Linked DNA regions of Homo sapiens: all the other regions are reported to be linked to region 2. Evidence: microRNA targets listed by miRTarBase, many of them from high-throughput screens and not tested one by one. Region 2 holds a microRNA gene; each other region holds the end of a gene's coding sequence. Distances are from middle to middle.

The links. The annotated mature microRNA hsa-miR-4525 reads GGGGGGAUGUGCAUGCUGGUU and lies in region 2 at 2,148-2,168, opposite strand. An mRNA with a match to its seed (bases 2 to 7 or 8) in the 3' UTR can be bound and repressed. Matches are read on the target gene's strand: a 7mer-m8 pairs with bases 2 to 8, a 7mer-A1 pairs with bases 2 to 7 and ends in A, and an 8mer does both.
Region 1: miRTarBase lists FKBP8 as a target of hsa-miR-4525. Seed matches in the 3' UTR shown: 7mer-A1 at 434-440 and 7mer-A1 at 595-601.
Region 3: the mRNA of WNT9B is a reported target of hsa-miR-4525. Seed matches in the 3' UTR shown: 7mer-A1 at 2,977-2,983.

The regions. Positions count from the first base shown.
Region 1 is chr19:18,529,204-18,532,542 of GRCh38, reverse strand. FKBP8 (FKBP prolyl isomerase 8) reads left to right here. Exons shown (of 9, transcript NM_012181.5): 9 at 288-780. The coding sequence ends at 374. Among named protein-coding and RNA genes, the nearest start is that of ELL, 8.8 kb to the right of the region's middle. RefSeq lists an enhancer at 2,150-3,035.
Region 2 is chr17:82,666,134-82,669,472 of GRCh38, forward strand. It overlaps MIR4525 (microRNA 4525), which reads right to left and starts at 2,174; the gene lies at 2,100-2,174. The region is part of intron 1 of RAB40B (RAB40B, member RAS oncogene family); the gene reads right to left. RefSeq lists an enhancer at 2,649-2,828.
Region 3 is chr17:46,876,278-46,879,277 of GRCh38, forward strand. It overlaps WNT9B (Wnt family member 9B), which reads left to right. Exons shown (of 4, transcript NM_003396.3): 4 at 1-3,000. The coding sequence ends at 441. It also overlaps a transcript of LRRC37A2 not described here. Among named protein-coding and RNA genes, the nearest start is that of WNT9B, 26 kb to the left of the region's middle. RefSeq lists enhancers at 142-742, 2,052-2,551.

The sequences.
Region 1 (3,339 bases), not on the chromosome of region 2:
AGAGAGCCCAGCCCTGTGTGATCATGAGTGGAGTCGAAGGTGGAACTCAAGCTGGAGGGCTGGGGGTGGACTGTGGAGCCTCTTCCAGGGCACGAGGGGCGGTGTCCTGGAGGAGGGGCCATTTGATTTGGGTTTTGCTGCATGAGTAGGAGTTTGCCAGGAAGTGGGAAATACATAGTCAGGCAATGATTTGTTGGGAGGTCTGTTTGGGCTGTGCTGGCAGCTGAGGCCCCAGAGGCCAGTCTTGACCTCCCTCCACCCTTCTCTCCCCTCCTTTTTATCCACAGTCCATCCCATGGAAGTGGCTGTTTGGGGCGACTGCTGTTGCCTTGGGGGGTGTGGCACTCTCTGTGGTCATCGCTGCCAGGAACTGACCACCTAGGTGGCTGCCACCCCCTCTGCACACCATGGACCCTGCCCTGCGCTCCCCAACTCCCCCAGGCTCCCTGTCCACTGCCCTCCCTGGTCTGGCCCCCTCCTCCGGGTTAGGGGAGCAAGGATTGGGGGTCGTGCAGCCCAGCCAGCAGGAGGGACTGAGGCCCTCTAGGAGGAAAGCCCAGAGGGAGGGGGCCCTCATTCCTTCAGACCCAGTTTTCCCCCACCCTCCTTACCCCGCTGGGCTAGGTCTCCGCCAGGGCTGGCCTCAGTTTCTCCTCAACAGGCCTGGGGGCAGCCCTTCCCCTGCCTAGTCCCCGCCTGAGTGCCAGCCCCCCACCCCGCCTGCCGCCCCCTGTCCAGGTTCCCTCCCCGCCACAGTGAAATAAAGCATCCCACCCTGCAGTTTCCACGGACTCCTGAGCTTTCTTCTCCCGCTGTCTGGGGCTGGGCCAGAGACAGCCTGTGATGCATCTGGAGTCACACAGCATGGTGGATGTGGTTGAGCCAGCTGGAGCTGGGGGTCTCCTCTCCGGGCACAACATACTCACTTTACAGAGGAGAAACTGAGGCATAGAGAAGTGGGGTGATGTAGCAGGGGCAAGTGGGTTGAGAGGTCTGACTCAGCTGGACTCTGGGGGTGTTACTGCCCAGCTCCACTCGTTACCCCAGCGTTCACTGTTTACTCACCTGAAATCCAGGACCCCAGTGGGCCCTACCTTGAGGCTGCTGCATGGGTTCTGTGGCATCATTGCTTTACCTAGTGGATGTACTGAATTCAAAAGAGACAGATGGTAGGAGGATGACTTGAGCACAGGAATTTGAGGCTTTAGTGAGCTATGATTGCACCACTGCACTCCAGCCTAGGCTGGAAGACCTCACCAGAGTGAGGTCTCTCTTTTTATTATTTATTTATTTATTTATTTATTTTTGAGACGGAGTCTCACTCTGTCACCAGGCTGAAGTACAGTGGCACGATCTCTGCTCACTGCAACCTCCACTTCCCGGGTTCAAGCAATTCTTCTGTCTCAGCCTCCCGAGTAGCTGGGACTACAGGCGCACGCCACCATGCGCAGCTAATTTTTGTATTTTTAGTAGAGACAGGGTTTCACCATGTTGGTCAGGATGGTCTTGATCTCTTGACCTTGTGATCTGCCTGCCTAGGCCTCCCAAAGTGCTGGGATTACAGGTGTGAGTCACCGTGCCCGGCTCTTTTTTTTTTTTTTTTTTTTGAGACAGAGTCTTGCTCTGTGGCCCCGGCTGGAGTGCAGTGGCGTGATCTTGGCTCACTGCAAGCTCCGCCTCCCGGGTTCATGCCATTCTCCTGCCTCAGCCTCCCGAGTAGCTGAGACTACAGGCGCCTGCCACCACGCCTGGCTAATTTTTTGTATTTTTGGTAGAGACGGGGTTTCACCGTGTTAGCCAGGATGGTCTGGATCTCCTGACCTCGTGATCCACCTGCCTTGGCCTCCCAAAGTGCTGGGATTACAGGCGTGAGCCACCGCGCCCGGCCTTTTTTTTTTTTTAATAAAGAGGTGGGGTGTAGTGTCATGGCCTGTAATTTCAGCTCTTTGGAAGCCAGGGTGGGAGGGTCGCTTGAGCCCAGCCTGGTCAACACAGTGAGATTCCATCTATGTTTAAAAAAAAAGTGCACCAGGCACAGTGGTTCCCACCTGTAATCCCAGCACTTTGGGAGGCCGAGGTGGGTGGATCACTTGAGCTCAGGAGTTCCAGACCAGCCTGCCCAACATAGTGAAACCCCAGCTCTACTTAAAATACAAAAATTAGCTGGGTGTAGTGGCACATGCCTGTAATCCCAGCTACTCGGGAGGCAGAGGTTGCAGTGAACCGAGATCATGGGACTACACTGCAGCCTGGGCAACACAGGGAGACTTCATCTCAAAACAAGAGACAGATGGGGTCCAGGGGAGAGGATGTGAATGTCTGGATGCAGCCTGTGAGAAGGCACAGCTGGAGGCCCAGGAAGACCTCTCCCAGGGGATGTGTGCGCTGATATTTCAGCGATGGCAAGGGTCTGCCCATGCAGGAAGCCGACAGCCCCAGGTCTGGGCAACAGCACGCCCAGTACAAAGACCCTGGGGCCAGGTCTAGCCTGGTGCATTCCAGATGGATGAGGCTGGGTAGCCTGCAGAGCCATACCCTGCAGGGCTTTAGGGGCCATGAGGAAGGGCCAGGGTTGATGCTGGGAGGTTCCCTGATCCCATCTGGCTCTCCCAACTCTGGACTCTGGGAGCTTCTCCTATGATGCCGCTCACCAGTGCAGCCAGGATGGGCGGAGCCAGCATCGGGGCCTCTGTCAGCCCAGCACCCACACCCTTTCTTCCTGCTGTTCCATCTTGCCCCCAAGAATAAGGGCATCCTTGAAAATAGACCACTACAGTCACCTCACCTGCATCTATCCCCTTACAGCCCAGGAGGGAAAGCTGCCTGCCACAGCCACCCAGGAGAAGTTGGTGCAGAAGGGAGGTTGGAGGGCCTCCCAAAGGCCTAGGACTCCAATCTACACCTCCACCTCACCCACTCACCCGCTTCTTCCAGGCCCTTGTTCTCTGGGTCACCTGGATGACTTGAGGCTGAGTGTGGCTTGAGGCTGTGCTCTCTTTCCAGTGGTTAGCCCCAGGTTCAGGCAATTCTCCTGCCTCAACCTCCCAAGTAGCTGGGATTACAGGCATGTGCCACCACACCCAGCTAATTTTTTTTTTTTTTTTTTGCATGCCAGCTCTGTCACCCAGGCTGGAGTGCAGTGGCATGATCTCAGCTCACTGCAACCTCTGACCTCTGCCTCCCGGGTTCAAGCGATTCTCCTGCCTCAGCTTCCCAAGTAGCTGGGATTACAGGTGCACGCCACCACACCTGGCCAATTTTTTTTATTATTTATTTATTTTCGAGATGGGGTCTTGCTCTGTCACCCAGGCTGGAGTGCAGTGGCCCAATCTTAGCTTA
Region 2 (3,339 bases):
GGGCATTGCTGTGTTGCCCAGGCTGGTCAACCTCCTGGACTCAAGTGATCCTCCCACTTCAGCCTCCCAAAGTGCTGGGATTACAGGCATGAACCACCATGCCTGGCCACAATACATTTTTTTTTTTTGAGATGGAATTTCGCTCTTGTTGCCCAGGCTGGAGTGCAGTGGTGCAATCTTGGCTCACTGCAACCTCGGCCTCCTGAGTTCAAGTGATTCTCCTGCCTCAGCCTCCTGAGTAGCTGGAATTACAGGCATACACCGCCACGTCCAGCTAATTTTTGTATTTTTAGTAGAGATGGGGTTTCATCATATCAGTCAGGCTGGTCTTGAACTCCTGACTTCAGGTGATCCACTTGTCTCGGCCTCCCAAAGTGCTGGGATTACAGGCATGAGCTGCTGCTCCCGGCCAATAAATATTTTTAAAGGGAAAAATATGTTTCCCCGCCCCCATCACCCCCCAGACACCAGTGTTCTGCTTCTTTAGGAAACATCTCCTGTGTTCACTTCTAGCGCTTCCGGATGAGCACCAGGTCTGTCATTGAGAACATGGAAAGAGAGGGTTTGAGTTAAGGGGCTGGAGAATGCCGGGTAGGAGCACTGCCTTCCTAAAACCAGGTACAATGACACGTACAATCACAGGAACCCAAACTGCTTAGTAACAAGACATGACCAGCCTTTGTGGGATTTGCTTGATTTATTTCATGTATAGGATTTACTTGACAGTATCTCTCAAAGCACTAAACCTACAAGAGACAAGCCCTGGCCTCACTCTCGGCTGTGATCGGATGTTGAGTGCTTTGACAAGTATGGCTGAATAGGGAATCAGAATTCTAAAGGGAAGCGCGCCGCTGAGAGGCCGAGGGGAGAAGCAGCGCCGAGGCTCGCACCAGACCTCACCCTGGAGACCGTCGTGGAGCACACGGCCTCTGCAGCTCTCCTTCCAGAGAAGCCCACGATGTAGCCAGTGAGTGCCCAGAAACAGGCTCCTCTAAAAATGCGAGGCTGCGGAGGCCACGGTTCTCAAGCAGCTTCTGCCCCCTCGAAGGGTCTAGAACCCTTGGACTTGGCCACAAGCCCCCCTGCATCCCAGGAGGCAGTGTGCCGAGTTCCTGGTCTCCTGTCGGGCAGAGCGAGGTGTGCAGTGGCGGTGCCACCGGTGGCCTCCCACTTGGCTTGGACAGCTGGTCGCCCACATCTTCAGGCAGGCCTGGGCGTTGCAGCAGCTCTGGGCCTCTGTCCTCCACTTTCCACTGATGCAGCCATGAGCACGTGCATGGCACACCTGCCTGATCTGAGCACACCTGTGCAGCGCCTTCCATGAGATCCCGAGCACCCCTCCCTCCCACAGCTGCTGTGTCCAGCCTGTCCCCTGCCCTCTGCTTCCTCCTCCGGGCCCTGCCCCCTTCCTGGACTCCAGAGGCTCTTTCTGTGGTGCCACCAGAGCCCCAGAGACATGGAGTCCAGGCTTCCCGCATCCTCCTCTGTCTCCTGCTAAACTCCACACTCTGTCCACAGAGACTGCCCATCACGCCACCAGGTAGATTAGACCAAGCAACACCAGAGCAAACTCCCCCCGTCAGAGGAGAGTGATTCAGAGGACAAAAGATACAGCAGCACTGAGAACGCCCGAAGCACCCGCTTTGCAGACGCCACCTGCCCCGTGATGAGGCTCAGACAGAGCGGCCAAGCAGTCCCCTGACCCACCCAGTACGAGGCTTTCCTGAGCTGGCCAAACGTTTGCCACCGAGCCCAGCAGGCACGCTGAGTGCACCGTCTGTCTCTCTCTTCTTGGCATGGGCGCTGACGGGGCACTGATGGGGCCTTTGGGATGTTGCTCTTCCGGCTGGAAACCTCTGTGGCTGCTGAATTATTGTCCTGCATCCAGGAAGAATGAGGTACCCAGACAAGTGGAGGGTGAGCGAGACGAGGAGGAGCTTTACTGAGTGTTAGAACAGCTCAGGGGAGACCCACAGTGGGTGGCTTCTCTCTGCAGGCAGGTCGTCCTGACAAGTGTTCAGCTCTCAGCAGACAGGGTAGCTCTCCGCAGCTGGTCATCCCGACGTCCGCGTTGCTCTGAGTCTGGGGTTTTTGTGGTCTTCAGGGTGGGGAAGTGCACGCTGATTGGTCCACAGGCAGCCCACCCCAACCAGCATGCACATCCCCCCTCTGACAAAAGCACCGAGTCCTCCTTCCAGTCTGCAGGACTGGCAGCCCGGGCCCCAGGCCCCCTTGAAGCTTCAAGGTGTGGCTTCACCAGGGACCTGCCCCCTTCCACCCAGAAGTCTGTCTGCCTCCCACTGCTGTTCATGGCACCCAGCTTGTTCATGCCAAGGGGCGCCTGCAGGCCAGCACTGAGCCACCCTCAGCCCTCCCTCAGCTTCCCTCCCATGTTCAACAGCGCCCAGTCCCGAGGGGGCTGAGGTGGCAAGGGCTGGTGTGTCCGTGCTGCCCCAAGTGTGGACCCACCCGGATGGTCTGCAGCAGCACCTGGGCTCAGCCCCAACTGTGCTCCACGACTGGAGCGGGCGTGGGGAGTGAGGAGAGGCCAGGCATTTGGAGCAGGCACTTCTAAGCCTGCAGGGGGCAGGGGTGGCCTTCCCAGGCCTCCAAGAGCACAGAGACGCCCGCGTCTAGAGCTGCCCCAGGGCAGCGGGCCGCGGCACGCAGGGAAGGCGGAGCTGCTGCCTGATCCGTGGATCGAGAGGCCCAGCCATGCCTCCGCTGCAGCCGGCATCTTGGCAGCAGCCACTCTAGATGGGCCACTGCTACCATCAGCATCTTAGCACCAGGAGCTTGACCTCACCACAGTGGGGCACGCGGCGTAGCCTCCATTGCTGTCAGACCAAAACCACACTGCTGTGGTTTTCCCAGGTGACCAAGTGAGTATCAAGGAAACAGTCCTTTTACAGAAAGGAAAATAGCCAGGCACGGTGGCTCACGCCTGTAATCCCAGTTCTTTGGGAGGTTAAGGTGAGAGGATCGCTTGAGCCCAGGAATTCGAAACCAGCCTGGGCAACATGGTGAGACCTCATCTCTACAAAAAATTTAAAAATTAGGGCCTGGGCGCGGTGGCTCACGCCTGTAATCCCAGCACTTTGGGAGGCCGAGCGGGGTGGATCACCTGAGGTCAGGAGTTCGAGAGCAGCCTGACCAACATGGAGAAACCTTGTCTCTGCTAAAAATACGAAATTAGCCGGGCGTGGTGGCGGGTGCCTGTAATCCCAGCTACTCAGGAGGCTGAGGCAGGAGAATTGCTTGAACCTGGGAGGTGGAGGTTGTGGTGAGCCGAGATCACACCATTTCACTCCAGCCTGGGCAACAAGAGCGAAACTCTGT
Region 3 (3,000 bases), 36 Mb from region 2:
TGCCATGGCGTATCAGGCTCCTGTGCCGTGCGCACCTGCTGGAAGCAGCTCTCCCCGTTCCGTGAGACGGGCCAGGTGCTGAAACTGCGCTATGACTCGGCTGTCAAGGTGTCCAGTGCCACCAATGAGGCCTTGGGCCGCCTAGAGCTGTGGGCCCCTGCCAGGCAGGGCAGCCTCACCAAAGGCCTGGCCCCAAGGTCTGGGGACCTGGTGTACATGGAGGACTCACCCAGCTTCTGCCGGCCCAGCAAGTACTCACCTGGCACAGCAGGTAGGGTGTGCTCCCGGGAGGCCAGCTGCAGCAGCCTGTGCTGCGGGCGGGGCTATGACACCCAGAGCCGCCTGGTGGCCTTCTCCTGCCACTGCCAGGTGCAGTGGTGCTGCTACGTGGAGTGCCAGCAATGTGTGCAGGAGGAGCTTGTGTACACCTGCAAGCACTAGGCCTACTGCCCAGCAAGCCAGTCTGGCACTGCCAGGACCTCCTGTGGCACCCTTCAAGCTGCCCAGCCGGCCCTCTGGGCAGACTGTCATCACATGCATGCATAAACCGGCATGTGTGCCAATGCACACGAGTGTGCCACTCACCACCATTCCTTGGCCAGCCTTTTGCCTCCCTCGATACTCAACAAAGAGAAGCAAAGCCTCCTCCCTTAACCCAAGCATCCCCAACCTTGTTGAGGACTTGGAGAGGAGGGCAGAGTGAGAAAGACATGGAGGGAAATAAGGGAGACCAAGAGCACAGCAGGACTGAAATTTTGGACGGGAGAGAGGGGCTATTCCATCTTGCTTCCTGGGATGAATGGCTTGGAGCCAGCATGTTCTTGGGAGGTGAACTGCTGGGCTAGGAATGCCAAGGCAGGCAGTGCCAGCTGGAAGTGAAGGCGGGAGCCTGGCTGAGATGGGTCAATCGGGTCCTGTGGCCCTGCTCAGGTGCAGTGGGCTCCAGGTGTCACACACCTCCACCACTCCCCTGGTTTTGCTGTGCCAGAGATGGGGAGAAAGCACAGGTGGTAGAAGCCATCCGTTCAGAGAAAGGAGAGCTTTCTGTGCTTGAGTGGACCCGAGTGAGATCTGTGCCCTGGAGCCCTGTGTCCTTGATTTGGCTTTTCAAATATGCCTCCGCTGAGGCCTCATTCTTGTCTCGAGAGCTGGGTTATGCACACTCACCCAGCCGTGCTCAAAACTACCACCAGTGCAGGTAAGACAGGTGGGAGAACTAGCCACCAAGGCGGGACTCAGTGCACCTGAGGTTGAACAGGGAGACAACGGCCCCTCCCTGTGTTCCCTGCTGGCCAAAGGAATCTTCACTCCCAGCGCAGAGGAGGAGGGCAACAGCTTCCTGGTGCCTGGCAGTGACGTGGCGAGCTCAGTTTCTCAGCTGGCTCTTGAGTGAGCTTTGGTGACTTCCTGTGGCTGGGGCCTGCCTGGTCTGTGACACCCCCATACCAGCTGAGTTCACAATACTGAAGAACAGCTGGCTCACGAGCTATGACTTGAAGTTACATTTCTATTCTTGTGGCTGCTCATCTAGTTAAGGCTTTTGCCCTGGCTGGGGTTATAGGTGCTTGAGTCCTTGCTAAGCCTGGCTCCTGGGTAGCCTCCTTCAGTTCCTAATGGCCTCTCACTTGGCCCTCACTTTGGCTCTTACTTGAGGAGGAGACGTGACTTTGATAATTTCCTCAGATCCTGTGGACATTTTCAGCAGCACCTGCCAAGGCCCTCTGTGAAAGGAGGAGAGACTGGTACCTCCACACAGGCACACATGGATGCACAGCCCCTGGACCAGGCTGGGGGTTCCTGTTGCACATGCCTCTCTTGTTCAGGATGAAGACCTTGCAGGGGTCCCCTTGCTGGAGGCATTGTACTTCCCCAGAGTGGGGCCCGATGCCACCCAGGAGGAAGTGACTTCTTTCGGGAAGCCCTTGGCCACTTTGCTGGCCCTGCCACGCCCATCTGTCAGCTTCCTTTCTCCCTAAACCTAGAGTTGCTGACCCTTCACCAACACAGGAAATTTCAGAATCAGCTGAATGCTCAGAAACCTCGCCTGTGCCAGCTCCAGGACAAAGGCCCGCTGACTGTGCCCTGGCCAACTCCCTGAGACCTCCAAGGGCGAGGAGGAGCTGCCCAGTCTCCAGTGGATCAGGGCAGTCTGCTGGATGCTGGAAGGATTTTTGACTGCAGAGGCCCGGCTGAGAAGCCAAACTGACCTGAGCCCCTCTCGTTAAAATGACATTGCTGACCCAAGCACCTGGCCCACACCTTGGCAGCAGGAGAAAAATGGGGAGAGGGCTGGTTTTCTCCTTTCTTCCACTTCCCCACAGCATGGAGATTTTCTCTGCCTTCCCAATCCATCTTGCTCCTCCGAGACCCCAACTCTGCCTCCACCCAGGCTCAGTGCTGGGCGTAAGGCAGCAGGGACCTCACTGGCAGAGCAGGGGGCCTGGGAGCAACGTGGAGGCCAGAGCACCCTGATCCACCAACATGCCACCTGCATTCTGACTTCATGGCTGGCAGTGCCAGGGTCGTGGGAGGGCAAAGGGCAGGCTCTAAGGCATCTAGGCAGTGGCTGGCTGCTAACATGGACACCCCAAGTCAATGGCACAGTGCAGGTTCTGAGGGCTCCTTGGCTTGTGGGGTCTTCTCTGTCTGTCTCTCTCCCTCTCTTCTTCCTTGCTCTCATCCCTTTCTTTTCCAGTTACCCCTGAAGACCCACCTCGGCCCTCTTGGGGCCCCTGGGGACTAGAGTGACCACTGACCCCTCATTCTACAGCTTTAAGGGAAATGCTCACAGGGTATTTTTGTCTACCTCAAATATATAGTTTTTAGAGCAAAGGAGAATAATTTATATAGCTAAGATATATGAGAAAGTATTTATATTATTTATATAGTTGCTATATTTCACAGACAGCACAGGTGGGGTTTGTGTATTTTCCCGGAAACCCTCTGTCTGGGGAGATACAGCCTGACCTGACCGGGTCCCCCACTGAGCAGGAGGCCGGG